Homo sapiens: one gene and its partners. The protein of the gene in region 5 interacts with the protein of the main gene of each other region in a pairwise test. Each region holds a gene or a part of one and is shown on either strand. Other genes may lie near its edges.

What was found.
Region 1: the proteins of PDCD5 (region 5) and UTP14A interact in a two-hybrid assay, tested with the Homo sapiens proteins (one large-scale study listed by BioGRID and IntAct).
Region 2: the proteins of PDCD5 (region 5) and LRIF1 interact in a two-hybrid assay, tested with the Homo sapiens proteins (one large-scale study listed by BioGRID).
Region 3: the proteins of PDCD5 (region 5) and RAD18 interact in binary tests that used the Homo sapiens proteins (3 or more experiments, as listed by UniProt).
Region 4: the proteins of PDCD5 (region 5) and CEP126 interact in a two-hybrid assay, tested with the Homo sapiens proteins (one large-scale study listed by BioGRID and IntAct).
Region 6: the proteins of PDCD5 (region 5) and NUDT3 interact in a two-hybrid assay, tested with the Homo sapiens proteins (one large-scale study listed by BioGRID and IntAct).

The regions. Positions count from the first base shown.
Region 1 is NC_000023.11:129,914,875-129,920,618, reverse strand, and holds part of UTP14A (U3 small nucleolar RNA-associated protein 14 homolog A), read right to left. Parts: intron 1,445-5,744; coding exon 1,325-1,444; intron 1,225-1,324; coding exon 1,130-1,224; intron 163-1,129; coding exon 39-162; intron 1-38. UniProt on the Homo sapiens protein: May be required for ribosome biogenesis.
Region 2 is NC_000001.11:110,950,423-110,956,166, forward strand, and holds part of LRIF1 (ligand-dependent nuclear receptor-interacting factor 1), read right to left. Parts: intron 2,394-5,744; coding exon 866-2,393; intron 1-865. UniProt on the Homo sapiens protein: Together with SMCHD1, involved in chromosome X inactivation in females by promoting the compaction of heterochromatin.
Region 3 is NC_000003.12:8,952,503-8,958,246, forward strand, and holds part of RAD18 (E3 ubiquitin-protein ligase RAD18), read right to left. Parts: intron 1-5,744. UniProt on the Homo sapiens protein: E3 ubiquitin-protein ligase involved in postreplication repair of UV-damaged DNA. Postreplication repair functions in gap-filling of a daughter strand on replication of damaged DNA.
Region 4 is NC_000011.10:101,997,234-102,002,754, reverse strand, and holds the end of CEP126 (centrosomal protein of 126 kDa), read right to left. Parts: intron 5,157-5,521; coding exon 5,112-5,156; 3' UTR 1,693-5,111; downstream 1-1,692. UniProt on the Homo sapiens protein: Participates in cytokinesis. Necessary for microtubules and mitotic spindle organization. Involved in primary cilium formation.
Region 5 is NC_000019.10:32,583,285-32,589,292, forward strand, and holds the end of PDCD5 (programmed cell death protein 5), read left to right. Parts: intron 1-1,665; coding exon 1,666-1,727; intron 1,728-2,531; coding exon 2,532-2,623; coding exon of another isoform or gene 2,624-2,755; exon of another isoform or gene 2,756-3,573; coding exon 3,574-3,645; intron 3,646-3,968; coding exon 3,969-4,016; 3' UTR 4,017-4,169; downstream 4,170-6,008. UniProt on the Homo sapiens protein: May function in the process of apoptosis.
Region 6 is NC_000006.12:34,281,925-34,284,669, reverse strand, and holds part of NUDT3 (diphosphoinositol polyphosphate phosphohydrolase 1), read left to right. Parts: 3' UTR 1-2,745. UniProt on the Homo sapiens protein: Cleaves a beta-phosphate from the diphosphate groups in PP-InsP5 (diphosphoinositol pentakisphosphate) and [PP]2-InsP4 (bisdiphosphoinositol tetrakisphosphate), suggesting that it may play a role in signal transduction.

The DNA of each region.
Region 1 (5,744 bases), on a different chromosome or scaffold from region 5:
GTTCAAAGGGGTGGGGGTGGGGCAAGAGGTAGTCTCACCATCATTCTGGCCTTTTCAATTTTTTCCAGTTCTTCTAGTGCTGCAGCTGGATTAACCTTCCGCAGCTGCTCAAACTCTTTTAGGGCTTTCTTGGCCTTTCCTTTCTTCACGACTTTGTGATACCTGTAGGGGTAGGAGGGAAGAGTTTAGCAATTTAGCTGAAGCACGGATGTCATAGGCACAAGTGCCCATACTACCCAATGGGTTCCCTAGGCAGGGGGCTGGAATGGGCATCATAGAGCTAGTTGGCTATAGGGAGTCAGTTTGGGACCTGACAGGACTGGCAAGATTCTTGGTACCCACAGTCCTCAGGGTGGACCTCTGCAGCTCAAAGAGTCTCCTTTGCCTCTATAACTCAAGGGAGGGGTAGAACAAGTTTCATTTTTTTTTTTAGACAGGGTCTCACTCTGTCACTCAGGCTGGAGTGCAGTGACATGATCTTGGCTCACTGCAGCCTCCACCCGCTGGGCTCAAGCGATCCTCCCGCCTCAGCCTCCTAAGTAGCTGGGACTATAGGTGCACATTACCATGCCTGGCTAATTTTTGTACTTTTAGTAGAGATGGGGTTTCGCCATGTTGGCCAGGCTGGTCTTGAATTCCTTACCTCAAGTGATCCACCTGCCTGAGCCTCCCAAAGTGCTGGGATTACAGGTGTGAGCCACCGTGCCCAGCCAGTTTTGCCATGTTGCCCAGGCTGGTCTTGAACTCCTGAGCTCAAGTGGTCCATCCACCTCGGCCTCCCAAAGTGCTGGGATTACAAGCATAGCCACCACACCCGGCCGAACAAGTTTCAAAGAGGCAAAAAGGCAGGAAGGAAGCCCTATTGGCCTTAACAGCTCTGGAATTCAGAGCTGATTCTGCAGAACCACTCTGTGATGCCTTGGAAGGCAGAGAAAGTAACTGAATAGTCATCTTTTTGGCAAAACTGTATGAGGTTGGTTTGGGGGGAACAAAAGGCTAGTCACTCCTGTTTGGGACCTCATCTGCATGACTCTAGTTGCTGCATCAAAGGTTCTCTCCAAAGAATTCATGATGAACCACATGACTTTCTTCTGTGGAACCCAAGGCCAGTTCACAGGGGCCTCCTTACTTTTTACTTTTGATTTTCTTCTCTCTTCGAGCCTTGGCCTCATAGTAGGACTGCAGAGCCCGAGCCCTCTGAAGCTCTGCTCGTCGCATCTTTGCCTACAACAAATGAGACTTACAGTGACACCTGGGCCAGAGGACAAATGCTAGGAGAAGCGTGGCATGCCTGGGTGTGCTGAAGGGCCTATGACACACTTACCTCTTCTAGGCTCATGGCTCGGAGAGAGGCCTTTTCCACAGGGGTCAGTAAAGGGTCTGTCACTGGCTGCTTGTTCTTATGGAGGAGGTTGAAAATTTCCTGCTCCAGGGGAGTTCTTGCCTTAAAGAAGCAACAAAACATTCTGAGTCTTAAGCCATGCTCTTACAGCTTTCTCTCTTTACATTCCTATGATTCTCTAACTTATGACACTATAATTGGAATCATAAGTGGATAGGATTGGCTGTTACAGCAAGAGAAGGGGGTTCCAGTCTTGTTGTCAGAAGTATAAATAAAGCCTTATTTGATTCTTATATAAGACAACTTCAGCAGGGAGACGCTGAGGCTACTCTCTAATACTGCTGAGGGGGATCACTGTGTTCAGGTTACCAATATATGTTTTTTTTTTTCTTTTTTCTTTGAGATGGAGTCTTGCTCTGTCGCCCAGGCTGAAGTGCAGTGGCGTGATCTCGGCTCACTGCAAGCTCCGCCTCCTGAGTTCACGCCATTCTCCTGCCCCAGCCTCCCGAGTAGCTGGGACTACAGATGCCTGCCACCACGCCCAGCTAATTTTTTGTATTTTTAGTAGAGACAGGGTTTCACCGTGTTAGCCGGGATGGTCTCGATCTCCTGACCTCGTGATCCGCCCGCCTCGGCCTCCCAAAGTGCTGGGATTACAGGCGTGAGCCACCGCGCCGGCCCAGATTACCAATATATGTTAAACTGATTTCCATTCTCTTAAGAATCTAGGCACATTGCCCTTGAGTCCCTGTATTGTTATGTATCATTTGAAGCACATAACTATTACTTTATAGTTAGGAATCTCAAATTCATATCATAAGCCTTCTTTTAGAATATTTCTAGAGGGAAGGGGCGGTTAGTTTTTTTTTTTTTTTTTTTTGTTTTCTGAGACAGAGTCTTGCTCTGTCACCCAGGCTGGAGTCCACTGGCACTCCAATCTCAGCTCACTGCAACCTCCACCTCTAGTGCTCAAGTGATCCTTCTGCCTCAGCCTCCTGCGCAGCTGGGACCACAAGTGTAAGCCACCATGCCTGGCTAACTTTTTTTATTTTTTGTAGAGACAGGGTCCTGCCATGTTGCCCAGGTTGGTCTTAAACTCCTGGCCTCAAGCCATCCTCCTGCCTTGGCCTCCCAAAGTGCTGGGATTACAGGCGTGAGCCCAGCATGCCCTGTGAGATTAGATCTTAAGATAAGCATTATTTGCCACTGATGGTATACCTAGGACATATATCTGCAAATGTCTCAGAGGGGAAGCCCAACTTTTTTTGACCATAGCCAACTGCTATAAACCATGCATATAAGTGTTCTTGGTATCATTAATTACTGATGAAAGAAAATGAGAAAAAACATGGCATTTTTTTGGCAGAGTCTTCAAATGTAGTTTGTGGTGGGGTGTGTGTCTTAATTTCTTGAGCACAAAAGGATATTGCCTGAAAAAAAATATAGGATGGGCATGGTGGCTCAGGCCTGTAATCCCAGCACTTCGGGAGGCTGAGGCAGGAGGATTGCTTGAGCCCACAAGTTTGAGACCAGCCTGGGCAACATGGTGAAACCCCATCTCTATTTATTATGTTAAAAACAAACAAACAAAAAGACCTTCATGTAATCAGCCTGTTTCCTGATGGTTCAAGTTGAACTCTCCTCATTTTCTAACTTTGGCTCCAATTCCTCAGTTTCCAGTTAATTTTACATGCTAGGCAGAGTATGTATGAAACGAATGAACTGTAAACCAGTTATTCCACATGCTATCATGAGGATGGCTAAATATTCAGGCCGATCATGCCACGGTCCACATTCTGGCAAGGCACAAAGACAGCCCTAGGCAACAGAGCTAGTTTCAAACCTCACACACATATTATGTGTGGTTTTCTTCAATAGCCATATACATCGTGGTCAGTATTAAACTTACAAATATTTGGATAAATGCATAAACGCACATCATCACATGTTACACGATGCTATTGATTTAACCATAAAACTATTCTACTGAATAGTAAAGGTATATGTTCTTCCACTTTTAGTATTTGCAGTAGTGATCAATCTCAGGCTACAAAGTGATTTATACTACAATGTTGTAATGTCCCTTCAATTCAATTCAATTTACAAACATTTATTGATTGTAGCTATATTCCAGGCACTTGTATGGGGTGCTAGGAATACACAATTGATTAAGATAGTTCCTGTCCTCATAGAGCTCACAGCCTTTGAGAGCAGAGACATATACAACACAAACAGCATAACATAATGGGTTAAATACCCTTTATGTTACCCTTAAATAACATAACTGCTACGTTATTCTATAGGGGTAATCACAGAGGAAATTACCATTAAATATTATTGGGAGGTAGGTTAGGCTTAGGGAAGGAAGTGACCTTTTGAATTAGGCTTTGAGGCCTAAGTACAATTCTGTCAGGAGGAAAAAAAATCCAAACAGATGAGCATAAGCAAAAAACACAGACACAGGGAAAGGAGTGGTATGTAATAGAACAACGTGTTGTCCAGCATAGCTAAAATGCTACGTAATTTTATTTTATTCTGTAAGTGAACAGCCTTTGAAGGATTTTAAGCAGGAGAGCAATGATCAACTGTGTTTCAGCAAGAAAATCCTGCTGATTGTGTAGAGGATATATGTAAAGTTCCAAAGGAAAGGTTCAATGAGGGCCTCGATTAGGGCAGTGAAAATGAAAATGAAGAGAAAATAGGAGCATAAGGGCTATTACAGAGACAGAATTTGCAGGTCTAGCCCCCTGTATAAGCTGGCGGAGAGGGAGACAGTGAAGGGGTCAAGAAGGAATCAAATGACTGAGGTTTCCAACCTAAGTGACTGGGGTAGGGAGTTATGCTGTTAACTGAGTTGCAGAATGAAGGGGGTGGTATAGGTTTTGGAAGTCTGGGGAAAGGAAATGCGAAGCTTACTTTGGACTGGACTAAGTTTAAGGTGCATATGGGGGACCCAGGTGATCCCTGCTAGTCACATGGAATATGAGACTGGAGCTTCAAAGAAGGGGTTGAGAGTGATAGTCGAAAGTTATGAAATTTTCACTCCTGTAATCCCAGCATTCTGGGAGGCCGAGGTGGGCGGATCACGAGGTCAGGAGATCGAGACCATCCTGGCTAACACGGTGAAACCCCGTCTCTACTAAAAAATACAAAAAATTAGCTGGGCGTGGTGGCGGGCACCTGTAGTCCCAGCTACTTGGGAGGCTGAGGCAGGAGAATGGCGTGAACCCGGGAGGTGGAGCTTGCAGTGAGCCGAGATTGCACCACTGCACTCCAGCCTGGGCGACAGAGCAAGACTCCGTCTCAAAAAAAAAAAAAAAAAAAAGTCATGGAATTTACAGAGCAAGAATAAAAAGGACTAAGGAAAGCCAGAGAGAGAAAATACCCAGAGTATATCACAGAAGCTAGAGGGGAGAGATTTTTAGAATGAAATGTGCCAATGGTGTCAAATATGCTAAAGACTAAGAGGGCTTGGGATTTGGCAATTCGGAGGCCCCTCACTAATGCCTTTTGAGAGAAGTTTCAGTAGGGCAGTAGGGGAAGAAGGTGAGAGAGAGGAGGCAGCAGTGGAGACAGACCAGCTCTTCCCCAAACACATTTCTCATCAGATAACAAGATTTGCCTCCCCTGTTAAAAGCTTAAAATTCAATTTTTTTGAAATTTTAATAAAATCAGTTTGTACACCCTAAGTTAAATTAGATCCAACAGGTGTCTTCACCATTGTTTCATAGCCTTTTTTTTTTTTTTTTTTTGAGACAGAGTCTCGCTCTGTCGCCCAGGCTGGAGTGCAGTGGCACGATCTTGGTTCACTGCAAGCTCCGCCTCCCAGGTTCATGCCATTCTCCTGCCTCAGCCTCCCAAGTAGCTGGGACTATAGGCGCCCGCCACCGTGCCCAGCTAATTTTTTATATTTTTAGTAGAGACGGGGTTTCACCGTGTTAGCCAGGATGGTCTCGATCTCCTGACCTTGTGATCCACCCACCTCAGCCTCCCAAAGTGCTGGGATTACAGGCGTGAGCCACCACGCCCGGCCCATAGCCTTTATTTTTATTTTTTATTTTTGAGACAGAGTCTCACTCTGTTGCCCAGGTTGGAGTACAGTGGCCCAACCTTGGCTTACTGCAACCTCCGCCTCCTGGGTTCAAGCGATTCTGGTGCCTCAGCCTCTTGAGTAGCTGGGATTACAGGCATAAGCCACCACGTCCAGCTAATTTTTTAATATTTTTTAGTAGAGACGATGTTTTGCCACGTTGGTCAGGCTGGTCTCAAACTCCTAACCTCAGGTGATCCACCCGCCTTAGCCTTCCAAAGTGCTGGGATTACAGGCGTGAGCCACCACATCCGTCTGGCCTGTTTCATAGACTTTAAAATGCTAAAGCATGTTGTGACTCTCCGATCTCCA
Region 2 (5,744 bases), on a different chromosome or scaffold from region 5:
GACATTATTTAGAAATTGTAGTCTTCTGGAAAAGTCACACATGCCTTTAATCGATCTTGTATTGAACAATCAGAATTTACCTCCTTACATCTCTGGAGTTCAATGAATTCTGTACTGAAGGGGAGAAATGCTGACATTATTGAGTAGACCTCTAAGTAAGCAAGGAAAAGATGGGTACAAATATCTAGTAAGCACACAGACAGACAAACCTTAAGTCGAACATAAAGGTAACTATGTGGGCATGTTGGGTAACTGGCTGAGGAGTCACAAAGAGCTAATAAAAAGGAAAATGAAATTTGTCTACCAAAAAAAAAATCAACCCATCAAAGATGCTGATAAAATCTTATTTCCACAAATTACTGAAAGGTATTGATTAGCCCTGTCTCACCTTTTCCATGGTATACCACCACCACCACCACAAAAAAACCCCACAAAACCCCAAAACCAACTCTTTTACATGCATATTGATCTCCTCATATACTAAAAAGGCTATTATATATGAACATACATATATACATGTATGTATATACATATACTCACATATTTTTACTAAGCTTTGAATTCACATTATCCTTCCCCAACTCTTCTAAACCTTTTTGCTCTGTGAATTTTTTGTTTTAAAGATTTGGCATGCCAAGTGATTCAAGAGAAAGACTGTACTCCTTTGTACAAGATTGTACCCAACTGTACTCCTCCTCAAATTTGCTCAGATGGAAGTTTTGACTTAAATACTCATATGTGTATAGTCTGTGTGTGATGGGGTTGGCAGTGGGGGAAAGAGGTATCATAGATAACTTTGAGAATTAAGAAAACAAACTTTTCTATATAGATATATAAAAAGAGCACCCTGACATGGGAAAATTACCTTTGGTTCTTGGTCTCTGAAAACACACTGTTGTGAAGTAACAGTTGTTGCATCAACAGAGGAACTTATTTTCTCTATGCTCTGGAGGACACTTCCTTTTCTAGCATAAATGACGGCTGTTACTTTTCTGGGGGCATTGTGTCCTGTACTAAATCCAACTGGAAAGATTGGATTTGTGAATAAAGTCTTACTCTGTTTTAAGTAGTTACTGGATTGGTTCATATGTGGATTTGTGGTAGAAGGAGATGGTTTCTCCACTTTATTCTTCTCTGCCCTTAGATTGGCCATGGAAGCAAGCTGGGTATTGGAAAGTGATTTTGTCTCCATCTGGGAAGATTTACTTTTAGCCAAAACAATATTTACAACCTCTCTGGATATTTCTGTGACTGGACTTGAACTCACTGTCTGTAACGTGTCTTTTCTTACTGGAGTATCAGGAGAAACAGAATTCTGTTGGTCAATTTGTGATGGCAGAACATCTGTCCCCTTTTTAGCCAACAGATAGACTTTCCCATTAAACATAACCAAAGCATTATCTTTAATAGGCATATTTTTGGATCGCGTCCCACTAGGATCGATGGTACTCAATGGTGGCATATTTATAGTATTATCTCCCAAATTTTTCCTATCTACAAAAGTTTTTAAAATCTTTGAAGCCACATTATTTGAAGACTTAACAGGAACAAGAGATGGCGTAAAAGGCTGTAGATTATCTTGGAAAATCCATTTCACTGGAGCAGCTTGAGAATGCTGACCACCTTTCAATTGTGTCTCTGTAGCAACATTCTTTGGAATTTGTGTGGTATTTAGTATTACTGGCTTTGCTATTTCTGTAACAGGTTTTGGGTAAATGTTTTGAAAGTTCTTGGTAACTACATTTTTCACTGTATTTACAGGAGATACATAAATAACGGTTGGCATTTGGGAGGCCTCAACCATTCCTGAGGTACTGGTGGTGGCAGTTGCAAGTATCTTTTGCTGCACTGAAGGAGGCAATGATGACGCTGGTACAGATTTCACTTCAGCATGGGCTGGAATCTGTAAATGATGCCCAGAAGGCAAAACTGGAGACTTCACAGTCACTGGAAGACTCTGGGTATTAACTACAATAAAAGATGAGTCTTTTTGTGTTGAGGGAGGAACAGCAAATGTTTGCATGGTGAGTCCATCAATTTTCACACCATGACTCTGAACTTTAGAAACTGATGAAGAAAAATTTCCAGTTCCCACAGAAGTAACTCTACCTTTTTCTGATGTATCTACTGTTCTTGTAAGAAAATAGTTTGAAGAACTGGCTGGCTGAAAAATGGGCAATTGAACTGATGCACTTGTGGAAGAGCTGGAAATCTGAGTCTGAAAAGTAACTTGAACTGGTTTTCCTGTATTCCCTTTCAAAGCATCAGACATGACTGAAGATTGAACTAGTGGTATAAGATTTCCAGAAGACTTAGGAATTGGAAGTAATTGCAGAAGATTTTTTCCATCCGAGCCAATCGTCTGAACTACTTGGTACATGCAGCCTGAAACACTTAAAAGAACATTGAGTAAATAAATACAACATACTACATGGTATATACATTTTATTTAAAAATAAATATTTGTAAATATTTGTAAATATTAAAATAAAGTATATAATTTTCCATTTTGAGTTTTTAAAGTGAAAGACTGCAAAACAAATATTTTGAAGTAGAAGAGATAATGATATAGTCAACTGCTTATATGATTAGGCAATGGGTATGAGATAATAACATTTATTCCTAAGACTAAAAGTAGACATTTCTAAGGTTTTGCCCTATATAAAATTATACTACTAAAGTAAGCTCCTCTTAAAATATTAGCATCCTCCCTTCCCCCTTTCCCTGAATTCCTTCCTCTTGTCCTCCTCCTCTACTCTAACTGAAGATTCTCATTCCCTCTCCCCTTACTCTTATTCCATTTCTCTCTTTTCCCCCTCAATCTGTTCTGTCTTCTTCCTTCAATAACTCACAAGTTCTGCCAGCCATTCTTCTTTTGCCTAAGCTATCTCTCATGGTGTTACCTTAGTTTGCCACATTTTTGTGCTATAGATTTCACTGAACTGTTTACATAGGAATCATTTTCTTCTGATTACTGTTTCAGCACATTTGAGGTTTAGTGCTACATAGTCTCTGGTATAGCAATTATTTATATTAGTCAATTGTCAATCACCTATCAACCCATACATATAATACCACTGCAATTTCAGCTGAATGGTTTTCAATCAATGTGGAACAGACTGGAAATCAATTTTTTTTAACTGAATCAATTCTGACCCCCATGCCTTGAATTATTTCTTAGTATAGACTGTCTAATCTTAAGAAAAATCAATATATACTAATCTCTGTTTGCATAATTAGTTATTTGGAGATTACTTGAATGTAAATACCTTACCTTATTTATATCTAAAACATTTTTCAGCTCCTGGGAAATATTGAGCTTTCATGTCACACATACTATCACTCTACCTAGGTACGCCTCACCCAACTCAACTCTTCACATAGCTCAAGTCTTGGCATAAATGATATTTCTCAAGAGATACATTTTCTGACCACTTTATCCTTGTCTTTCCTTCATAATTAATCCATAACATTATGCTTGTTAGCTTCCTTCATGGTATATATCATAGATTGTCATCATATATTAATATGTTTGTCTATAGACTGTCTCTCATATTATATTCTACCAATATGAGTGCAGCATCCATATACCATAGACCTAGCATGGTCTTAGATAACTAAGATCAAATAAATACAAAAGTTCAAGGGCAAATAATAACGATAATAATTAGGATTCTCAAAAGCATAAAGGTATGTTTTTAAAACTCTCAGGTATTAATAAAAATCAATACCCAAAATTCTATGTATCCGTAGAAATTTGGTTTACCTTTCTGCAGCCCGAATAACATTATTATATCCTTACAAAAATTTAAAAGTCTTTTGGACACGTGAGAGTGGGTCAAAATATTACATTGACATTTTGTTATTGTTGCTGTTGAGACAGGGCCCGGCTCTGTCATCCAGACTGGAGTGTAGGTGTACAATCTTGGCTCACTGCAATCTCCACCTCCTGGGCTCAAGCTATCCTTCTACCTCAGCTTCTCAAGTAGCTGAGACCACAGATGCACGCCACCAAACCCGGCTAATTTTTGTATTTTTTATAGAGGCAAAGTTTTGCTATGTTGTCCAGGCTGGTCACACACTGACTTTTAATAAATTAAAAGTTAACTTCTAAAGAGAATAAACCCAAAGAAAAGGATGAATTCTTGCTTTCAGGGTTTTAAGAGGAAAAATCTACCTTTATTACCTCCCTGCACCACAAGAAAAGCACATTTGACCTGGATAAGAACATATTCAATATTAAGTCATTACACAAAAATTTACCAAGTGTCTGTTTTAAGTTAAGCACCAGGCTCATCAGGAAAAAAGGGTCAGTAAGCTGTAGCCTCTGGGCCTAATCTGGCCCACTCTGTTTCTGTGCATTCTTATATTTTAATTGATTTTTAAAAATCAAAAGAGTAACAGTAGCCTCTGTAGTGGCTCCTCAGTCTTCTTTGCCAACTCATACTTTTGAATCAACTTTCAAATGTTGGGAGTTTACCAAAGCTTAGAAAGAATCCTTCTCTTCCTATTCTGTACTCTTTTGTTAGATGCTTTCTTCTCAATGCATAACTTCAATTAAATTATCACTTACGCATGAACAATTTCAATATTTCTATCTGTGGCTTCTTTGAAATTTAGGCTTATACATCCAAATTCCCTTTTAACATTTTCATTCAGAATCTCAAACGTTCCTAAAATTCAACATGGCCAGCAGATCTCTGCCCATCCTAATCCCCCCAAGTTCCATCTTCTGCAGGGTTTTCTTTGCTAAATAGCATCTCATCTACCTTAGGTGCCTTAAGTCAGAATAGATAAATCCTCCTTTCTTATTCCTTATATTCAGTGATCACAAAATCCTGTTGATATTGTCTCCTAAATTTCCTTTCATCTGTTCAATTCTCTCCAAATCAACTGTTACCACTCTACTCCAAGCAAACATCATCTCTGGCTTAGAATACTACAATAGCTTCATGACTGATTTTTTTCTCCAATCATATCTTCTACCTTTCAATTTACTCAGCACACTAAAACTGATCTTTCCCTGCTTAAAACATTGCAGTGGCCTTCCATTATTCTTAGAGTCGTAGGAAGAAAACCATTGCTTCTGATGCAATGTTAAGCCAAAGGAACAGAGGATTTTAAGAAAATTGGGCAATTATACTAAAAGTTTCTGAGATGCCAAATAGGATAAGGATTAAAAATGTACACTGAAAACAGTGCTGTGAAGATCACTGATGGCTTTAATAAGAGCAGTGTGGTAGGGGAAAGAAGTTGCTGAGGAGTGGGTATGAAGCAAGTAGACAACTCTTTTTAAACTTTGACTGTCAAGGGGAAGAGAACGACTGGCAGGAAGCTACAGGAATAAATGGAATCAAAGAAGGGATCTTTCCTTTTTCTTTGTTTAAGGTTAGATTAACCAGAACATATGTAAATACTCAAGTGAGCCAGTTCAGGGAAGAAACTGGTAATAAAGGAACAAAAGGGATACACAATGAGAAGGAGGCAGGAAATGGAAACCAGAGAGACAGGTGGAGGGACTCAACCTTAAAGAGAGCTGGAGACCTATCTCCTTCCATTGCAACACTGGAGGAGAGATTATGTGCATTTTCAGGTAAGCATACAACTTTGGGGTTAGGAGGCTGAGGTAATTCTCATTTAATGGGTTTTATTTTCTTTATGAAAAATCACATGACATCATCTGCTAAAAGTAAGAGCAAAAATATGGAAAGATTTGAGGATAATCAAAGATTGGAACAGTCTTC
Region 3 (5,744 bases), on a different chromosome or scaffold from region 5:
GTCAGTAAATCACATTCTTAATATGTAATATTGATTCAACAATGGCAACAATTTTTAAAAAATTAATAAGTTGTCACTATTAAGTTGAATTATATGAAACTGACATTTTTGGTTAAGTCAAAAATGGACAAATATTGGCAATTTCATGTGGTTCAAATAAACACTGCACTTAGTATGTGCTCTGTTCTAAGCACTTTACATGTATTAACTCTTTCGATCCTCACAGCAACCCTGAGGTTGGTACCAATGTTAGTCACATTTGACAAGAAGAAAAATGAAGCACAGGGCTCAGCCAACTTGCCAAAGATAATGGAACTAATATGTGGCAAAGGAAAGCACCAGAGTCCAGACTCTTAATATATTAATTATTAAAAATTACAGATGCTCCTTGACTTAACATGGGATTACATCCCGATAAACCCATCATAAATTGAAAATATCATAAGCCAAAATGTATTTAATATACCTATCTCTAGCCTGGGAAAAGATCAAAATTCAAAATTCAAAGTATGGTTTCTACTGAATGTGTATCGCTTTCACACCATCGTAAAGTTGAAAAATCCTAAGTCAAATCATGGTAAGTCAGGGACTGACTATATCTATAAACATTTGTTTATAATAAATATATACTGTACATTTATACTATAATGTATACTTATATAAATATGTACTATGTATAGTTATATAATGTATACTTATACAATATAGTGTATACATTATTATATATGTAATTGTACCTATATAAGTATACATTATATATATTATGTATACATCAATAAATAACATTTAATTAATAAGGTCACATGTACCTTTTAAATTAGTATTTATAATAAGGCTACTGCTTTCTCTTCTGCATAATCTTGTATATCTTTCCTCTTCTTTTCTTTTGAAATGAGGAGAACCAGATATGGAGTCCTAAGTAGATCAAGCCCTAGGCTTAATTTCACTCTACTAGACTACTACCAAATATGTACTGGTAAGCTGCAGACCAGCATAATTTATTCTCTAGTGGGCAACTATGACAACCCTTCCATTCAAAGAAGAACAGCTGAAGAGTTTTGAATTCATGTATTCCCAGAGGGCTTCATTTAAATCACCTATGAAATTTGTCTTTCCATCCAAGAGAGCCCAAAAAAGATGTGTGGGCAGAGTGGAGGAAGGTACAATAACAACAATGAATTAAAGAGTAGTTTCACAGAAATATCCAAGCCTTGGGAGAGGGGGCATCTCTAATCCCAAGCAAGATCCTAGATAAAATAATTGGCTTGTGGACACTGATAAATTACCACTATTTTAAAGCTTGGCCAGCAATCTTTTTTTTTTTTCCTTTTGTGGATTTTGACTCAAAAAAAATTAATCAAAGCTTGTGTAGAAGTAAAAAGCAATTTTATTTCATTTTTTAAAACAAACTGAAATATGAAATGTTCCCCTTACGAAACCTTTGCTAATTCAAGAGACAACATAAGATTCTATTAGGCAAATAATAAACGTGTTTATCTTCTTTTATATTCTCATGAAGTAGCACTGTGAAACAAGGCAGAGGAGAAGAGAAATAGCTACACACACAAAAGGGAGATATAATTATGCAGAGCTGCACTTCTGGAAATTCTGAAATGCTAGTCTTTAGTTGGAGGGATGTTATTCTCTTACCAACTAACTGTCCCTTAACATTAGAACTGGAGGCAGATGCCAACCTTTTCAGCTTTCTTGGACCTCCTGTTCTTTTCACACTGGTTTTTGCTTTTAACTGGACACTTTAGATGTTTCTTTCTAAAAAGTTCCTTCTTTCATAAAGTCCTTAAGATTTCACATGACAAGGATTCATTTAAGTTTTAGAAATTTCCTTTTTACTATTAAGATGCTAGACTCTTTTGATGTTTGAAAGCCAGCCAATTGCTAAATATTTTGATCATCTTCCATTATGAAGTGAGAAAAATTATAGCAAGTGCAAAGAAAATTGGCACTTGGGCATATTAGTCTATTAGCAAGACCATTTCTCACTTAATGGTGTTTTATGGGTTGGAGTAAGTCTGCTCCCTCTCGCCCCCAAAATACTCTTTAATAGCACAAATTTGGATCAATTTAATTGACCTGCATTCTGCCAAGGCACCCCACTCACACCTTTGTACCTGCAGAACTACAAATGTAGTGTTTATTACTCATATCCAAAAACCTAAACAGAACAAAACAAAATAAAGTGATTTAAAAATGATAAATCATGAAAAATCTAAGAAGCAACAATAAATACCTAGGATTCTGGATCACCAATTCTAGTCAATCCAAGATGATACCAGAACATGACAGACCTGGCTTCCACTACAGCCCTGGGGGTTTTGTGTCATTAAAACACTAAAGACCCAGAGCAAATTTTAGACATGACGGGACTTGTGACAACTGGTGTTTAGTAGAAGAGGCCTACTGAATACTGAGACTTCACAAGTGAAAAAAAAGTGCTCATAAAATAAAAAATCATCATTACTGAAACTTCCCTCCACTGACTTCCTCTTAAAGAATGGCATAAGTGACAGCTATAAGTCATGAAGAAGTGAGCAAACAACATGTATCCCTAGGGAGAGAAACAGAAGACTAGCACTTACATTGCGGGGGCTACTTGAGAAACTGGTTTCTGAGCTGCCTGAATCTATACACTGACAGAAAAGGGAACCAGGTTGAGGGCCACTGAGAACAAAAGCAAAGGTCTGGACTAGTACCACACTCACTGGCCAGTGTGCCTCCCCCAGGCTCAGCAAGGAAGAGAAACCCCCAACTTTCTGCCTGGGGAGAGAAAGAAGGGAAACACGGTCCAATGTTCTAGCTTTTCCAAGAGCTGGCCAGAGGACTGGCTTCTGTCTCACCCCACTAAGCATGAACCCTGCATGTTCTAGGTGACTGGGGACTGCTAAGAATAAAAAAAAGCTGGGTTGCTTGCTACTGATCCACAGGACCCATAGAGCAGACAGAGGCTGATATAGCTCTGCGGCTTATCTTGGGAGGGGAGGCTGGGAGAGAATAGTGGAGTGTGTGACCAACATTTGAACTTTTCAAAGGACTGCCTAAGGGAATGGTTTCTGTCTCACTCAACTTGGGGTGCTTTGGATCAGCATACTTTAGATGCTTGAGGGCAGCTGAAAACAAAAAAAGAGGCTGATGGCTTACAGCAACTCTGGAGAACCTGCAATACCATGGACAGACACATGAGAGAGAAAAACAGCAGCTAATGAAAAAACTGACCAAATCTCTCGGCTTGGAAATTTATAATCACAAGTCCAGGGAAGACACATCCACAGAAAAGGCTTACGAAGCCCCTAGAATCTGCAGTCAAGCTGACTAGTAAAGATCTTTCTCTATATGGTAGTGCCCCCTTATACACAGGCGAGACATTCCATAAAGCGCAGTGGATGCCTAAAACCACAGGTAGTACTGAATCCTATTTATACTATGTTTTTTCCTATACATACTTACCTATGATAAAGTTTAATTTATTAATAAGACACAGTAAGAGATTAGGAACAATAACAATAACATAGAATTAAAACAATATACTATAACAAAAGTTATGTAAATGTGGTCTTTCTCTCAAAATATCTTGTGCTGTACTGTAGATGGTACTGTAGATCTTAGCAACCTCAGCATACAATTTTCTTTCCTTTCCTTGTTAAGAACTTTCACCTTTTCACTTAAAGGAAGCATTTTATGGTTTCTCTTTGTCATATCCGAATTGCCAGCATCATTACTCTTGTGCTTTGGGGCTACTATTAAGTAAAATAAGCGCTACTTGACACAATTACTGTGTTCTGCAACACAGTGACAATTACTGCCATGCTGCAACAGTCAATCTGGTAACCAGGATGGTCACTAAACGATTAACGGTAGATAGCATATGTAACATCAACACACTTGACAAAGGGATGATTCCCATCCTGGGCAGGACGGCACAAGATTTCATCAGTGCTTTACTTAGAACAGAGTGCAATTTAAAACTTATGAATTATTTATTTCCAGAATTTCCCATTTAGTATTTTCAGAATGCAGTTGACCACAGGTAACTGAAATCACAGATAAGGGGGGACTACAGTACAAAGCCAGTCTGTAACAAAGCCACTGTGAGGGAGTGAGGCCCTGTCTCCCAAACAAAACAAAACAAAAACAACGTTATTAGCTATGTCACAAAATAAAGGAAGAAAATCATATGAGCATCTCCATAACTGCAGAAAATACTTGACAAAATTCAACACCCATTCATGATTTAAAAAAAAAAATCCTCTCGCCTAACCAGGGGTAGAGAAGTGCCTCAACTTGGTAGGTTTATGAAAACATATTAAGAATATAAAAAAAACTTACAGCTAACATCATACTTAATGGTAAAAGACTGAATGCTTTCCCCAAAAAATTAAGAGTAAGGACAGGATGTCCCTCCACACCACTTTCAACACTGTAGTTGAGGTACCAGCCTGTGTAACAAAAAGAAACATAAAGGCATATAGATCAGAAAGGAATGAGTAAAACTGTCTTTATCCACAAATGACATGATTGTGTATGCAAAAATTTCTAAGGAATCAACAAAAAAGATGCTGGAATTAAAGTGAATTTACTGCAGTCAGAAGACGAAAGGTCAATATAAGTTATATTTCTTTGTGCAAGGTCTGTGCAATGAAAATCAAACAACACTGTTGAGAGAAATAAAGATAGAGAAGTGTATCATATTCATACACTGAAGACTCGGCATTGTTAAGATGTCAATTCTCCCAAATTGATCTCTAGATTCAATACAATTCCAGTGAACATCCCAGCAGGCTTTTGGTAGAAATTGACAACCTGATTTTAAGTTATACATGGAAATGCATTTAAAATGCAACGATCCTAAAAAAAACGAAGAAAAAAAAGTTGGAGGACTTACAATGCCTGACTTCAAGACTTACTACAAAGCCACAGTAATCAAGATAGTGTGGTACTGGCACAAGGATAGACATATATGAGTCTAGCATATAAGCATTTTAAAATATTGTACCTTGAGGTATTTACTGCAATAGGGGTTATCCTATCATTGTTCAGGAGTTAGACAAACAGTTTACAGATTATTTAGGTTCATGCTCTTTCCTGTTCTCTATTTTCAAGTTGATTTATCTTGGAAAGCTAAAGCAACAGTAAACTTAGGCCTAAACAATTGGTTTTAGTGGGCAGTAGTTTTGGTGAAAAACTACTAAGTTTCTAAGATCAATGGAATAGAAGAGTCCAGAAATAGACTACAGATGGCTAGCTGAGGTCATACTGACTGAGATGGGGAGAAATTTATCAGATAATGAAAATGTTCAGTATCTTAATTGCAGTAGTAACACAGCATACACATTTGTCAAAATTCATGAACACTTTTATACCTTAATGTGCACTTAAAATGGATGTATTTTATTGTATGTAAATTACACCCAAATAAAGATGATGTTAAAATATATTTTAAAACAATCTCCAAAACTTATCTTGGTTTTTAATGTGAATCTTGTCTGGAAGAAAACTAACATTGTTAAGGACTCATAATGTGCCGGACAGTGAGTTCTGCACATTTAATTCTCACAAACATTTTCTAAAGTAGTAAATTCTCACCCGATTTTCAAGAGTCAAGCCCAAGGGCATCTGCAATGCCCGTGCTGCCGTCACTGCTACCCTCTTACTATGTCTTCTCCACAGAAACTTTTCCACCAAAGCTACTACCAACTAAAACCAATTTCTTAGGCCTAAGTTGACTGTTT
Region 4 (5,521 bases), on a different chromosome or scaffold from region 5:
GAGAGCCCCCAGCTAAATTGGGGTTCCAATATCAGAGTAGCTAGCAACCCTACCCCAACAGGATATGAAGGGGAGATGGATGTGGGTGTTTACAGTGTGCCTTTCATGGGATACTTCTTTTACCTGGAGGATGGCCTAAGTCCTAGTTGCCTGACCTGACTGGGGGTCCCTCACATGGGAAACTTGTTTATACTGGCAGATGCCCTTGTGGCTCTTGTCTGATCCATGTCCAGTTTATGCCTGCCTGACCATCACTTTGGCACTGGGAGTTCAACCTTGTGCTCTCCCTGGTGTCCCCTGGTTCTTCAGATGGAAAGCACAAATTCAGTACATCACCACAATAGGAAATAAGTTCAAAGATTTTCACTTACAGATCCTGGGCAAGGAGGGCATAATGAGTCAGGAGGGCAGTCCTCTGTCCCCAGGTCATATGAGGCAGAAAGGAAGAGCCAGAGAGAAAGTGTGTCTAGCAGCATGTCTAAGGGAATGGAGTGTGGGCCACTTTAATAGGCAAATGTCTAAATGGTCCATTTAAAGAGAGGCAGGAAAGCAGGGAGTGCAGTCCGCAAGGCAGGAGAGATCCCTCTAAGTTCTTGTCACTGGCCACCAGCTTGAGCCATCTGGGTGTAATGTAGAACTGGAAATTGTGCCAAAGATGACTGAGCCCTGCTTTGGTATGAGAAAGTTAAACTTGTATTCAAAATGGATGCTGAGCAACATAAAATTGTAAGAATTCTCTATATATCTCCGACATCAATCCAGCACCAAAAGTTTTATTCTAATATTCCCCCTTTCTGGGAAAGGCAAAATAATAGAAACAAAATCCAGATCAGTGGTTGCTCAGGGCTGTATGAAGGAATTTTTGGCATGATAGGGCTGTTCTGCATGGTACAGTAGTGATGGGTATACAATGCTATGCATATGTCAACACCTACACAATTCTACAAAGAGTGAATTTACTGTATGCAAATAGGAAAAACATCCAGGATGTTGGAAGAATCCAACATGGGATACAGATTGTGACAAATGAATCTAAACTGTATTAAAATTATTCACTTGGTAAACTATCACTCCTGCAATCCTAGCGACTCAGGAGGCTGAGATGGGAAGGTGGTTTGAGGCCAGGGTTCCAGTGTAGCCTGGGCAACACAGTGAGATCCTATCTCCAAACAAAAAAAAAAAAAAAAAAAAAAAAAGAAAAGAAAAAGAAAAAAAGCTAGGCATTGCCATGCATGCCTTTAGTCCCAGATACTGGGGAGACTGAGGTAGGAGGATCTCTTGAGCCCAGGAGTTCGAGGCTGCAGTGAGCTATGAGTATGCCACTGCACTCCAGCCTGGGTGATAAAGTGAGACCCCCAACTCTTAAAAAACAAAACAAAAACCCACCACAGTGAAGGGGGTAGAGAAGAAGGAACTGGCTTTAGTGACTTTGGAAAACAGTGTGTTGACTGAATAAGTAAGATTGGGGATGAAAAGAATGATAAAAATGCTGTACTTTAGTTAGAAATCTGTTTCTCCTAGGTATGTGGATTAGCAATTCTGAAGCAAATTTTCATGTATACTAGAGTTAAATTAGTGCCTGTATTGTGGCTAATGAGTGTCAGGTTTCTCAATGTCAAAGAAAATACAAACAAACATTTTGGGAATTTTTATATTAAAAATTTACAGTTATAAAAACCAAATCACATTTAGTTATATATTTAATGAATCATTTTTATTGCAAAGGGTAAATTACATGAAATTGACAAAATTTAGTCCATGTAATATCTATCAAAATACATACATGTAAGTGTGTGTATATTTATATATGTATACAGTACAGTTTTCACAAAAAGCTTCAACATTCCTAAGAAACACAGACATAGTCATTCTGGTACAATATGGATTTAAAATAAGTTCATGGTAATCCTTCCTGATGCCAATTTTAAAATGAAGACCGTCTAAATTTTTCTGACCAGTTATTAGTTGCCCTGCCTCTCGGAAATGTGTTTAAACTTTTCTTTCAATTATTTGATACCTTTTGCCCAAGAGATTACTATCTCTCTCTTTTTTTTTTTTCTTTTAAGACAGAGTGTTGCTCTGTCACTCAGGTTGGAGTGCAGTGGCACAATTCCTGATCACTGCAACCTCTGCCTCCCAGGCTCAAACGATCCTCCCACCTCAGCCTCCCCAGTAGCTGGGACCACAGGCACATACCACCAAGCTTGGCTGTTTTCTTTTCTTTTTGTATTTTTAGTAGAGTTGGGCTCTTGCCATATTACCCAGGCTGGTCTTGAATTCCTGAGCTCAAATGATCCACCTGCCTCGGCCTCCCAAAGTTCTGGGATTACAGGTATGAGCCAGCATGTCCGGCCTGAGATTACTCTCTCTTATAAGAAGTTTCATAAGTTTTTCCACTGAGGAAAGTGATGCTTGTTTGATTTCCTCTAAATTTACTTCTTCACATTCGAAAGGAGACTCTTTTCTTCCTTAGAACTTGAAGATTCAGTGTGAAAGGGCATTTTTCTTTCTTATATTATTAAAAAAGTTACTTTTTAAAAAGTAACATTTTTATTTTTATTTTATTTATTCATTTTTGTGAGACGGAGTCTTGCTCTGTTGCCAGGCTGGTGCAGTGGTGCAATCTCAGCTCACTGCAACCTCTACCTCCTGGGTTCAAACGATTCTCCTGCCTCAGCCTCCTAGTAGCTGGGAGTAGAGGTGCGTGCCACCATGCCCAGCTATTTTTGTATTTTTAGTAGAGACAGGGTTTCACCATGTTGGCCAGGATGGTCTTGATCTCTTGACCTCATGATCTGCCTGCCTTGGCCTCCCAAAGTGCTGAGATTACAGGCATAAGCTACCGTGCACAGCCAACATTTTTATATTTTATATAGAGATGGGGTCTTGCTACATTGCCCAGGCTGGTCTCAAACTCCTGGGCTCAAGCAGTCCTCCTGCCTTGGCCTCCAAAGTGCTAGAATTACATGCATGAGCCACTGTGTCTGGCCAAAAATGTTAGTTTTCACGTTTATAGCATGCAAAGTGTTATTCTCTTCCACTTTAATTCACAAAGGCTCTTTATGTCTTCCCACTTTTATCACTCTTAATGAACCCACCCTGTATCTACTAAAATTCTGGAGGAGTCATGGGCAGAATTACAGAAGAATTCTGGTCATATGACAGTTTCATAAAAGGACAATATCATAATGTGCAAGTTCTAGTAAAATGCAAATCTTATCTTGTTTCACCAGCTTACTATTTAGGCTTTTTTTTTTTTTTTTTTTGGCCTATTCTGACTTTGGATCTTAACTATTTTCAACTATCTTTTTGCTTGTAGAGGCATTCTTTGGTTCCTAAGAGGTATTAAAGTGAGGGATTACTAACGGTGAAGCTACTTTGGCATGCAGGATGCTGCTGTGTACATATATACTAGTGTATATGAATATAAACCCTTGTCTTTTTTTTTTTTAATAAAAGTGAGTTTTCATCTGAGGTGCTTGGAATGATTCACAAACAACTTGGCACACTCTTCTGGCCTGTTTACCCCCATTGAAATGTTATTTTATAAATTACATCTTAATTCACAGAATTTTTTCTTGATAGTATAAGAAATTCTCAAATATTTTCTATAGGGGCACACAACTTTCTATTTAAATGTCTAAGAACTAAATTTTCTGTCGCCTTCCGAAATCCTATTCTTAAAATTAAAAATATAGGAAAGCACAAATGTTTCCTTCATTAGGTCAATTTTTTCACTAATTTCTTCATTTAAAAAGTGAATTCTTTTCCTGTTTTTCCTCATTTCATCCAATAGTTTCCATTTCTACTAACATGGTGTGGCAGAAAGAACATGGGTTTTGGAACTAGATAAACCTGAGTTTGAATTTTGATTCTGTCACTGTAGGTAGCTATGTGGCCTTGGCTCAGTTTCTCATCTCTAAAGTGGAGACAAAAATACCCATGGTTTGGGTGGCTGGTCAGATTAAATAAAAAATATATGCACAAAATTTGGTACATGGTAGGCATTCAACATGTTAATGCATTTCTCACTACATCAAGTGTTTCAAAACTAATTCTATGGAGGAACCAAAATTTAGTAGTGTTATTAATAAAAGGCCACATGTTTTCTTAAAACTCTTAATTTCTAATTTTGATTCATCACTTTTTTTTTTTTTTTTTTGAGGCTGGGTCTCACACTGTCACCCAGGCTGGTGTGCAGTGGCGAAACACAGCTCACTGCAGCCTCAACCTCCCAGGTTGAAGTAATCCTCCTGGGCTCAAGTAATCCTCCCGCCTCAGCACCCCAAGTAGCTGGGACTACAGGTGCATGCCACCATGCCTGGTTAATTTTTGTATTTTTTGTAGAGACAGGGTTGCCCAGGCTGGTCACGAACTCCTGAGCTCAAGCCATCTGTCTACCTCGGCCTGCAAAGTGCTGGGATTACAGGCATAAGCCAACGGCCCTGGCTTGATTCATGGCATTTTAATGAAAAATTTCATGTTTTTTCGGTATGCCAAAGTGCCATGTATGAAATATGAAATTTGGAAGAATCGATGTAATTGTACAGCCATAGGAAGGCCTCCCTTCACCATACAAAAAGGTAACCTTTGCTCTATTGCTGCCACCAAGGGCCATTTTGTGGGATGTGGTAACTTTAAGAATATTTATTACAATTAAAAAAATCAAAATATGCCATACTTCATAAACATCTTATCAGTAAGTTAGAGGTTTAATAAAGAGGTTCAATAAACAGAAATTTTATTTAACATATATTTCAACATGAAATCTATAAATTGCAAAGGAGCACTGTGAATTCTTTGGAAAAACGTTTGTTTGCTCTACTCACAAGCTTCATCCTTGTGGCATGTATTCAGAGCTAGGTTATGTCCTGCTTTTTGTTTAGGCAGGCATAATGTCTTTCATGGTATTCTCAGAACTCTGTTAAACTTCACTGCTTTGTTAAATGTCACTGCTCTGTTAAACTTCACTGCTCACAAAATCTGAGTTAGGACAAATGTTCATGGGGGTTGTTGCTCACATGTTTTCCTATGGCTGGTTTTCACAAAACGGTATGCATCTAGTCCTAGGGAAGTACATGAAAGGTCTTCTTAGACGGATTCTGCTGGAATTATCTCTTGTCTCTGCAGCTGCTGGTTCTATCTTCTCTCTTCTCCTGGAAATCAGAAAGAAGAAACAAGCATGCAAACACATGCCAAAACACTGCAGCTACAAACTAGGCTGACATGTCAAATAGTGGCATATTCAACACATCCTGACATCATTCTCCCAGGTAATGAGTTTAAGATTGCAGAGGACTTTATAGATTATTTACCTCAACCCTTACATTATGTTCATCAGTACCTTTCTACTCTAAAAGGTAAAATTCCCACTTTGAAAATGTGCAGTTTTACAATATCATTAAAAATTCAGGTTTCAGGCTGGGCACAGTGGCTAACGCCTGTAATCCCAGCACTTTGGGAGGCCGAGGCAGGCGGATCACGAAGTCGGGAGTTCGAGACCTGCCTGGCCAACATGGTA
Region 5 (6,008 bases):
TTATTTATTCTTTACTTTGTACTGAGAATGTTGCTCTTTGATACCCCAGTGGTGGGATCAGAACTCACTGCAGCCTCAAACTCCTGCTGGGCTCAAGTGATCCTCCCACCTCAGCCTCCTGAGGAGCTGAGATGACAGGCGTGCACCACCATGCCTGGCTAATTTTTTTAAACTTTTTTTTTTTTTAATAGCCTCGCTATATCACCCAGGCTGGTCTCAAACTCCTGGCTTCAAGTGATCCTCCCACCTTGGCCTCCCGAGAAACCCCAGTTTTGAATGGAGATCTCTATTAGACCTCTCATTTTAGGGTTTTTCATTTTTAGAGATACGTAAAACTATGGTGTATCTTAGAATTGATGGCATCTTAGGGTTCTGTGATATAATAGTTTGTGGCAGGCCAGGTGTGGTGACTGAAGCCTGTAGACCCAGCTACTCAGGAGGCCGAGGGGGAAGAATCACTTGAGCACAGGAGCTTGAGCTGATCATAGCTGCAGTGAGCTGTGATTGCACCACTGTACTCCAGCATGAACAGCAGAGTGAGACCCCATCTTTTTTTATTGTTGTTGAGATGAAGTCTCACTCCATCACCCAGGCTGGAGTGCAGTGGCACAATCTTGGCTCACCGTAACCTCTGCCTCTGAGCTTCAAGCGATTCTCCTGCCTCTGCCTCCCAAGTAGCTGGGATTACAGGCACCCGCCACCATGCCCGGCTAATTTTTGTATTTTTAGTAGAGATGGGGTTTCACCATGTTGGCCAGGCTGGTCTCAAACTCCTGACCTCAAGTGATCCACCCACCTCAGCCTCCCAAAGTGCTGAGATTACAGGCATGAGCCACCATGCCTGGCCTAGACCCCATCTCTTAAAGTTTGTGGCAGGGCTGCAGTACTCAAACCATAAAGAAGTGGCCTATGGAAATGAGCTTTAAGCCACATTCCATGAACCGAAGGGCCTCTGAGCTGGGAGTGGATAGTGGGCACAGCCAGCCCCAGCTCTCCCTCTCAGTTGAGCCAAAGCATCTGTGCTCATTTGTTTTTAGATTTCTTAAAGGATTTCATTTGAAAGAAAAAAGAAACAAGTCCATGAGACCACTGTCCTGTGAACGTGAACTACTTTCTATTTGGGTAGGTAGGAAGAAGTGAGGATAGTTGCAAAGTTATAATTTCATTCCCCTTCCCCACCCAGAAAAATAGAACTGAGAGTCTTAAAACATGGAATCTGGCTGTAGCTTGGCCACAGTTACCTATGTCTCTTTAGCATAGCCTCCTGGATCTCAGCTTTATCTCTAAGAAAATGATATAGATTAGTCACATGGTCCTTCTAATTGCCTGAAATCCCACTATAAATTTCTAGCACCTGTCACGCAATAGGTACTTAAGAAATGTTGGTGATGGTGTTTGAACTGAGGCTCCACTCTGATGAAACTGTAAAGCTCACCTTCCAGCCTGGTAGGTTGTCACCTGTGTAATATAAAGCTGGTTCTTTGAGGGCAAAAGGGGATTCTACTTGAATGTAGCTGCAGCCTTATGTACAGCAACTACCATAATGCAGTTTGTATACCGCAGGCCCCATGTGGAGACACATACTGGATGGGTTCTTTCTCGTATGTTACATGGGAATGCCGACAGCTGTGTTTTAATTGTGTTTGACCTATGTTTTCGTTGTAGGGAAGCAGAAATGAGAAACAGTATCTTAGCCCAAGTTCTGGATCAGTCGGCCCGGGCCAGGTGTAAGCATCTTTGATTTCATTTCCATAAAGTTAGCTTGAGTTAGTTGAATGGGGTGATTAGATACCATTATTGCTATCACTAGATGAAATATTTGCTTAGGCTGAAAACACTTGAGATGTGTAAGAAGTGTGAAGTTTATAAACCTAGAGAACTGTACTTTAATCCCTAGTAAAAGTACCAGGTCACTTCTCTTACCAAGATGTTCTCCAGGTGTGTATTAGGTAAGATTTATAGGAAACAACTCATAGGGCCAATCACAAAATGTTGCTGGTAGTTGACATTTTGTGTCAACTGGTGATGGGGACTGGGGATGGGGGACTTAGGGGCTTTTTATATGTATTGTCAGTTTTAGTGTATGTTCAGAGTTGTTCATCATAAAAACCAAAACCTGTAGAAAGAAAAAATGAGACAGTCAGAATGAACTGGTATTTTCTGTATTTTAACTGGAAGCCCAGTTTGAGTGTAGAAAAGGCGGCCACAGGTGGATCACCACCATTATGTGTAATAGATAAACCGCTTTCCAGAGGGCAGTCATATATTTTAAGAAACAGGAAGCATGGTGCTTAGAATCTGAGAACCCAACTTTAATCTTGGCTGGGCCACTACCCCCATGTGCCCATGTGGAGATTGGCATGGGTGAACTTCAGTTTTCTCATTTTTAAGAGGAGTAACAATACTGTCTTGCCCTACACTGAGGGACAAGCTTGTGAAGTGCTTTGGAAAGGTCAATGCATAGTTTTAAGGTATAACATAAGTGCATTTGATTTTAATGGATTTTTTGCATATGTATTTTTTCTTTTTAGTAAGTAACTTAGCACTTGTAAAGCCTGAAAAAACTAAAGCAGTAGAGAATTACCTTATACAGATGGCAAGATATGGACAACTAAGTGAGAAGGTAAGCTTAGACAGCCTTGAGGAACTTTACTGTTACCTGCTTTATCAAAACATGGCTTCAAAAGGTCAGCTGCATCTTCACTGGATTACAGAATTCTTGCTGACTCTCAGAAGAAATTGTTGGAGAGAATAGTCATACCTACTTTAAAAGAGAATAAATTGCCTTTCCTAAATTCCTCTGCTTCGCTCCTTTCCTGGCGTTGCTCTGGAACCTTGTTGGTGTCTGTGACCCAATGACTGTTAGGGTCAGCTAGCTTCAATTGCCCCTGCACTGGAAGCAAGGTTTGTCAGTAACACCAATTAAAATACTACCAGTGTAAGTAGAAGGTGTGTTTTGCAGATGAGAAGGTGCTAAGATGCCTTGCTTATGTTCTCTGTGTTGCTGTAATACCATGAGGGGTATGTTGTGGCAAACCTGGCCTTTGAGATCAAGACGAACCCCACCTGCCCTGAGAAGCCGTCTGCTACCACCACAGCCTACCCGAATTGGTCCTGTCCCCTAAACCCCTCACACTGAGAACTGCTTGTGTGGGAGAGAGCTGGTTGGGTTGATCTTTTCCGAGTGTGACTTACCTCCTTCAAGGGGATGTTTAAGCTTCTCGGGCAGAAGTGGTGTGTCTATTCCTGACACCAAACACCGTGGTATATGTGGTTGTCACACTCAGCTAGTGATGATAAAGGTGTTCTTAAATATGTTAGCTTTCAGTTTTCCTGAGGAAGCAATTTTATGGATACTTCCCCCTCCTTCTCAAGTGAGGAATAGCAGAGCAAATTTTATTTGGAACTTAAACCAATAGTTATAACCAATAGTTTCAACCTCCTGCCTCACCACTGCTTCCTTCCTGAGCTCTTTCCCCACACCTCAAAAAGAGTACAAAGTGATTCCATCTGCAGAGGTAAATTCTTTGTTTAAAAAAGTACTGTTTTTCTTATCTTTTCTGGTTCTCCTAGGTATCAGAACAAGGTTTAATAGAAATCCTTAAAAAAGTAAGCCAACAAACAGAAAAGACAACAACAGTGAAAGTAAGTGTCCCCAGATGCTTGTGGCAAATGAAAAGATGGATACTTTAAAGATTAATGTTGAGTATACATCTACCACACATATTTTTCAGCCCAGAGACATTTTCCTTTTGTCAAACACGTGAAAGTTTGGGGAGAAAGGCTGAATCTGTTGGGGGAGGGTTCTAATTTTTATAGGCTCTTGACTCCATTCCCACCCTTTTAGTTCACGCTAAGTTGCTTTAAAGACACAAATGTCTTGCTAAAATTGGTAGAAATCTTTTCTCGGAAAATCTGAGTTATGCTTTATTAGAAATGTTCTGACACTCATTTAATTTTCCTCCCAGTTCAACAGAAGAAAAGTAATGGACTCTGATGAAGATGACGATTATTGAACTACAAGTGCTCACAGACTAGAACTTAACGGAACAAGTCTAGGACAGAAGTTAAGATCTGATTATTTACTTTGTTTATTGTCTATATGCCTTTTAAAAAAATAAACTTGTTATGCAAAATAAAACATTTGGGTAAGTTGTTTTAGTATCATAGCCAAGTGGCCAGATCTGTGTTTTGAATTTTTCCCCTTCCTACCAAAAGCTTTTTTTATTTTTATTTTTGTTATTATACTTTAAGTTTTAGGGTACATGTGCACAATGTGCAGGTTAGTTACATATGTATACATGTGCCATGCTGGTGCGCTGCACCCACTAACTTGTCATCTAGCATTAGGTATATCTCCCAATGCTATCCCTCCCCCCTCCCCCCACCCCACAAGAGTCCCCAGAGTGTGATGTTCCCCTTCCTGTGTCCATGTGTTCTCATTGTTCAGTTCCCACCTATGAGTGAGAATATGCGGTGTTTGGTTTTTTGTTCTTGCGATAGTTTACTGAGAATGATGATTTCCAATTTCATCCATGTCCCTACAAAGGACATGAACTCATCATTTTTTATGGCTGCATAGTATTCCATGGTGTATATGTGCCACATTTTCTTAATCCAGTCTATCATTGTGGGACATTTGGGTTGGTTCCAAGTCTTCGCTATTGTGAATAGTGCCGCAATAAACATACATGTGCATGTGTCTATATAGCAGCATGATTTATAGTCCTTTGGGTATATACCCAGTAATGGGATGGCTGGGTCAAATGGTATTTCTAGTTCTAGATCCCTGAGGAATTGCCACACTGACTTCCACAATGGTCGAACTAGTTTACAGTCCCACCAACAGTGTAATAGTGTTCCTATTTCTCCACATCCTCTCCAGCACCTGTTGTTTCCTGACTTTTTAATGATTGCTATTCTAACCGGTGTGAGATGATATCTCATTGTGGTTTTGATTTGCATTTCTCTGATGGCCAGTGATGGTCAGCATTTTTTCATGTGTTTTTTGGCTGCATAAATGTCTTCTTTTGAGAAGTGTCTGTTCATGTCCTTCGCCCACTTTTTGATGGGGTTGTTTGTTTTTTTCTTGTAAATTTGTTGGAGTTCACTGTAGATTGTGGATATTAGCCCTTTGTCAGATGAGTAGGTTGTGAAAATTTTCTCCCATTTTGTGGGTTGCCCGTTCACTCTGATGGTAGTTTCTTTTGCTGTGCAGAAGCTCTTTAGTTTAATTAGATCCCATTTGTCAATTTTGGCTTTTGTTGCCATTGCTTTTGGTGTTTTAGACATGAAGTCCTTGCCCATGCCTATGTCCTGAATGGTAATGCCTAGGTTTTCTTCTAGGATTTTTATGGTTTTAGGTCTAACGTTTAAGTCTTTAATCCATCTTGAATTGATTTTTGTATAAGGTGTAAGGAAGGGATCCAGTTTCAGCTTTTTACATATGGCTAGCCAGTTTTCCCAGCACCATTTATTAAATAGGGAATCCTTTCCCCATTGCTTGTTTTTCTCAGGTTTGTCAAAGATCAAATAGTTGTAGATATGCGTCATTATTTCTGAGGGCTCTGTTCTGTTCCATTGATCTATATCTCTGTTTTGGTACCAGTACCATGCTGTTTTGGTTACTGTAGCCTTGTAGTATAGTTTGAAGTCAGGTAGCGTGATGCCTCCAGCTTTGTTCTTTTGGCTTAGGATTGACTTGGCGATGCAGGCTCTTTTTTGGTTCCATATGAATTTTGAAGTAGTTTTTTCCAATTCTGTGAAGAAAGTCATTGGTAGCTTGATGGGGATGGCATTGAATCTATAAATTACCTTGGGCAGTATGGCCATTTTCACAATATTGATTCTTCCTACCCATGAGCATGGAATGTTCTTCCATTTCTTTGTATCCTCTTTTATTTCATTGAGCAGTGGTTTGTAGTTCTCCTTGAAGAGGTCCTTCACGTCCCTTGTAAGGTGGATTCCTAGGTATTTGATTCTCTTTGAAGCAATTGTGAATGGGAGTT
Region 6 (2,745 bases), on a different chromosome or scaffold from region 5:
AGAAATAATAGGTATTTGTTAGACCTGAGTGTACATTTCACATGTTATCCTTCACATATTTCTCATTTTCATCTAGTACTTTCTTAATGCCTTTGTTGGAGTCCGCATCCTCATCTTTAAAAAAAAAAAAAAAAAAACAGCTTAGCCTAAGCCACATTCACTTTTTTTAGTTCACAAAAAGGATTTAATAGCCACAATGTGATTTTTGCCACAACTGTGTGATTTTAATATTCTCTAATATCAAGGGCGGATTTAGAATTGCAGGAAATACCTGGAGAAATCACAGTGGAATGAATTTTTGCTTTAAGAGAAATGAGAGTTGGCTGTCTCTGTAATTGATAATACAGCTTCATCCTAGTCCCATCTGCATTTCAGAAAATAACCCTCATCTTTACAAAACACAGGACACTTGTGGGACAGTTAACTCAAGCAGCTATGGGGAGGGAGGAGATTATTGAATGGTGATTAAATAATGCAAATGGCTCTTCTGTTTCTTAAAGACTGTGGAAGAGGTCAGACTGCCCAGTTGAGGTGGGCAGTTCATACTGCTCAGTTGAGGTGGCAGTCATTTATTCTGAGTCCTGTTGGATAGAGCCTATCTCCTCAAGGCTACAGAGGCTTCCAGGATATGGAGCTGTGCATGTTAATGGCTCAGCCTTGCCTCCATCAGGGCACCTGCCTAACTTGGAGCAAGTGGGAGAGCACCCTAGAGTCATCCTCTGTGCTGTTTCGTGAGTTTTGCAGCGGAGACTTCACCATCCGGAGGAGCTGTGTTTCTGTGTCACTTGGGATATCACCTAAAAATGAAACATTTGATATTTTAAGGTATAAAAAAAAAGTAAATTGGGGAACATTGGCTGCAGTCCCTAAAAGATACTGTTGTCTGTGCATCAGGTTAGCTTGAGGTCACCACAGGTCCTGGGAGCCCAGAGAGTTTAGGCATACTCTCCTTTGGAGGCCAGCAGCCTTTCACAAACCCTGCCTCTAAAAGGGCGGTTTCACATTTGACCATGTTTTTGCATTAGCCTCAGAAACTCTTGTCTTTAGCTGATAACCTTTGAGGGATGTGAGAAGCCTAGTTGGAGCATCTGAGAAAATGATACCTCTCACCTTCAAATTAATCAAATAGTTTGTCCTTCTAGTCCCCTTATAAATTAATAAATGGAGGGCTGGTCATGGTGGCTCACGCCTGTAATCCCAGCACTTTGGGAGGCCGAGGCGGGTGGATCACAAGGTCAGGAGTTCAAGACCAGCCTGACCAATATGGTGAAACCCCATCTCTACTAAAAATACAAAAATTAGCCAGGTGTAGTGGCACGCTCCTGTAGTCCCAGCTACTCGGGAGGCTGAGGCAGGAGAATCGCTTGAACCCAGGAGGTGGATGTTGCAGTGAGCCGAGATCCCGCCACTGCACTGCAGCCTAGGCGACAGAGCAAGACTCCGTCTCAAAAAAAAAAAAAAAAAAAAGAAAAGGGAAGGGAATCCCATTTTGTGATGATTTGGGCACACTACTTGAGCTGAGGCTAGCAGTCACATGATTTTGGCTGTCTCTGACCTGAAGCTTTTGAAGTAAGGTTATGTCTCTTCCCTGAAGCTTTGTTTATAGTGGTAATTTGGTGAGTTTGAGCTTTGAGCTTGTCTTAGAAAATAAGACTGTCCACCTGGGGAGGGGAGCTTATAGGGAACCCGTGTTAACTCAGAATGCTGAAGAAAGTGCTTTTAGCCAACAAAAGTAAGATTACTATCTAGAAGGTGGAAAGAAGTCATTGCTTCTGTTCCTCCAGCAGTCAGTTGACTCTAGGTTTCCTTTGGTTTATATCCCCAGTTCTTAATACTAAAACTTATTTGACTTCCTATCAGGAAGCACACAAAAAAAGCGTCATTTAAAACCCTGGATATAGGCTTTAAAGGATACAAAAACAGCAGCATTGTCGTTTTGCCAGGTTCATCACCATTTTGATGTGCTACCCATCCTTCCACCCTCCCTTTCCTGCCCCCAAGCCTCCCAGCCAGGCCAGATGTGAAGATTCTATTAATCACTGTTTCAGAGAACATTAATTCTTGTATAGAATAATTATCTACTAAATTGCTTATTATCTGTGACTACCTTGCAGAGAACATCTCAACAGTGCAGTAAAATAGCTCTCCTAGACTTGAGCTTCCAGCCAGGCATTTAGATCACTCTTAAGCCTTTGTGGAATTCTGAGGAAAAAAAGCAAGATGCCTCAATGCCAATGCTGGGCCATAAGATTCTACTCCCCTCCCTGTAGGGTGGGGCGCGTGGCTCAGCTTTGGAAAATCATTTTGCCAGTAATATTGCCTGTGAATCCCTTTAAGAAGTCGTCCTGATCTGAGCCTGTCTTTCTGAGCACTTTGGTGCTGAATTGAAAATGGTAAGCTAAAGCAGTGACAGATCCACGTAGCCTCTTTAACCTCTTTATTATCTTGCCAAAAAAAAAGTTTCTCAGGTTAAACCTTTGTCTTTAACCTCCCTTTGTTGTGGAGAAAATGTGTCACTAATCAGTGGTCCAAGGGATATCTAGCTTTGGTTACTCAGTTCCTGCAGCATAACAGATATGACTTATGCCAGGGAAGGTAGAGGCTGATTATGGAGACACCCAGGAACAGGAATAAGAAGGGATAGGTCTGCTCCACGTAGAACCTCCCCAGATCGGAAGTTAAGTCTTGGAGAGTTTCCAAAGTGCTGAAGTAAAAAGGAGACTTGGAGGGCCTTTGCTTAATGAG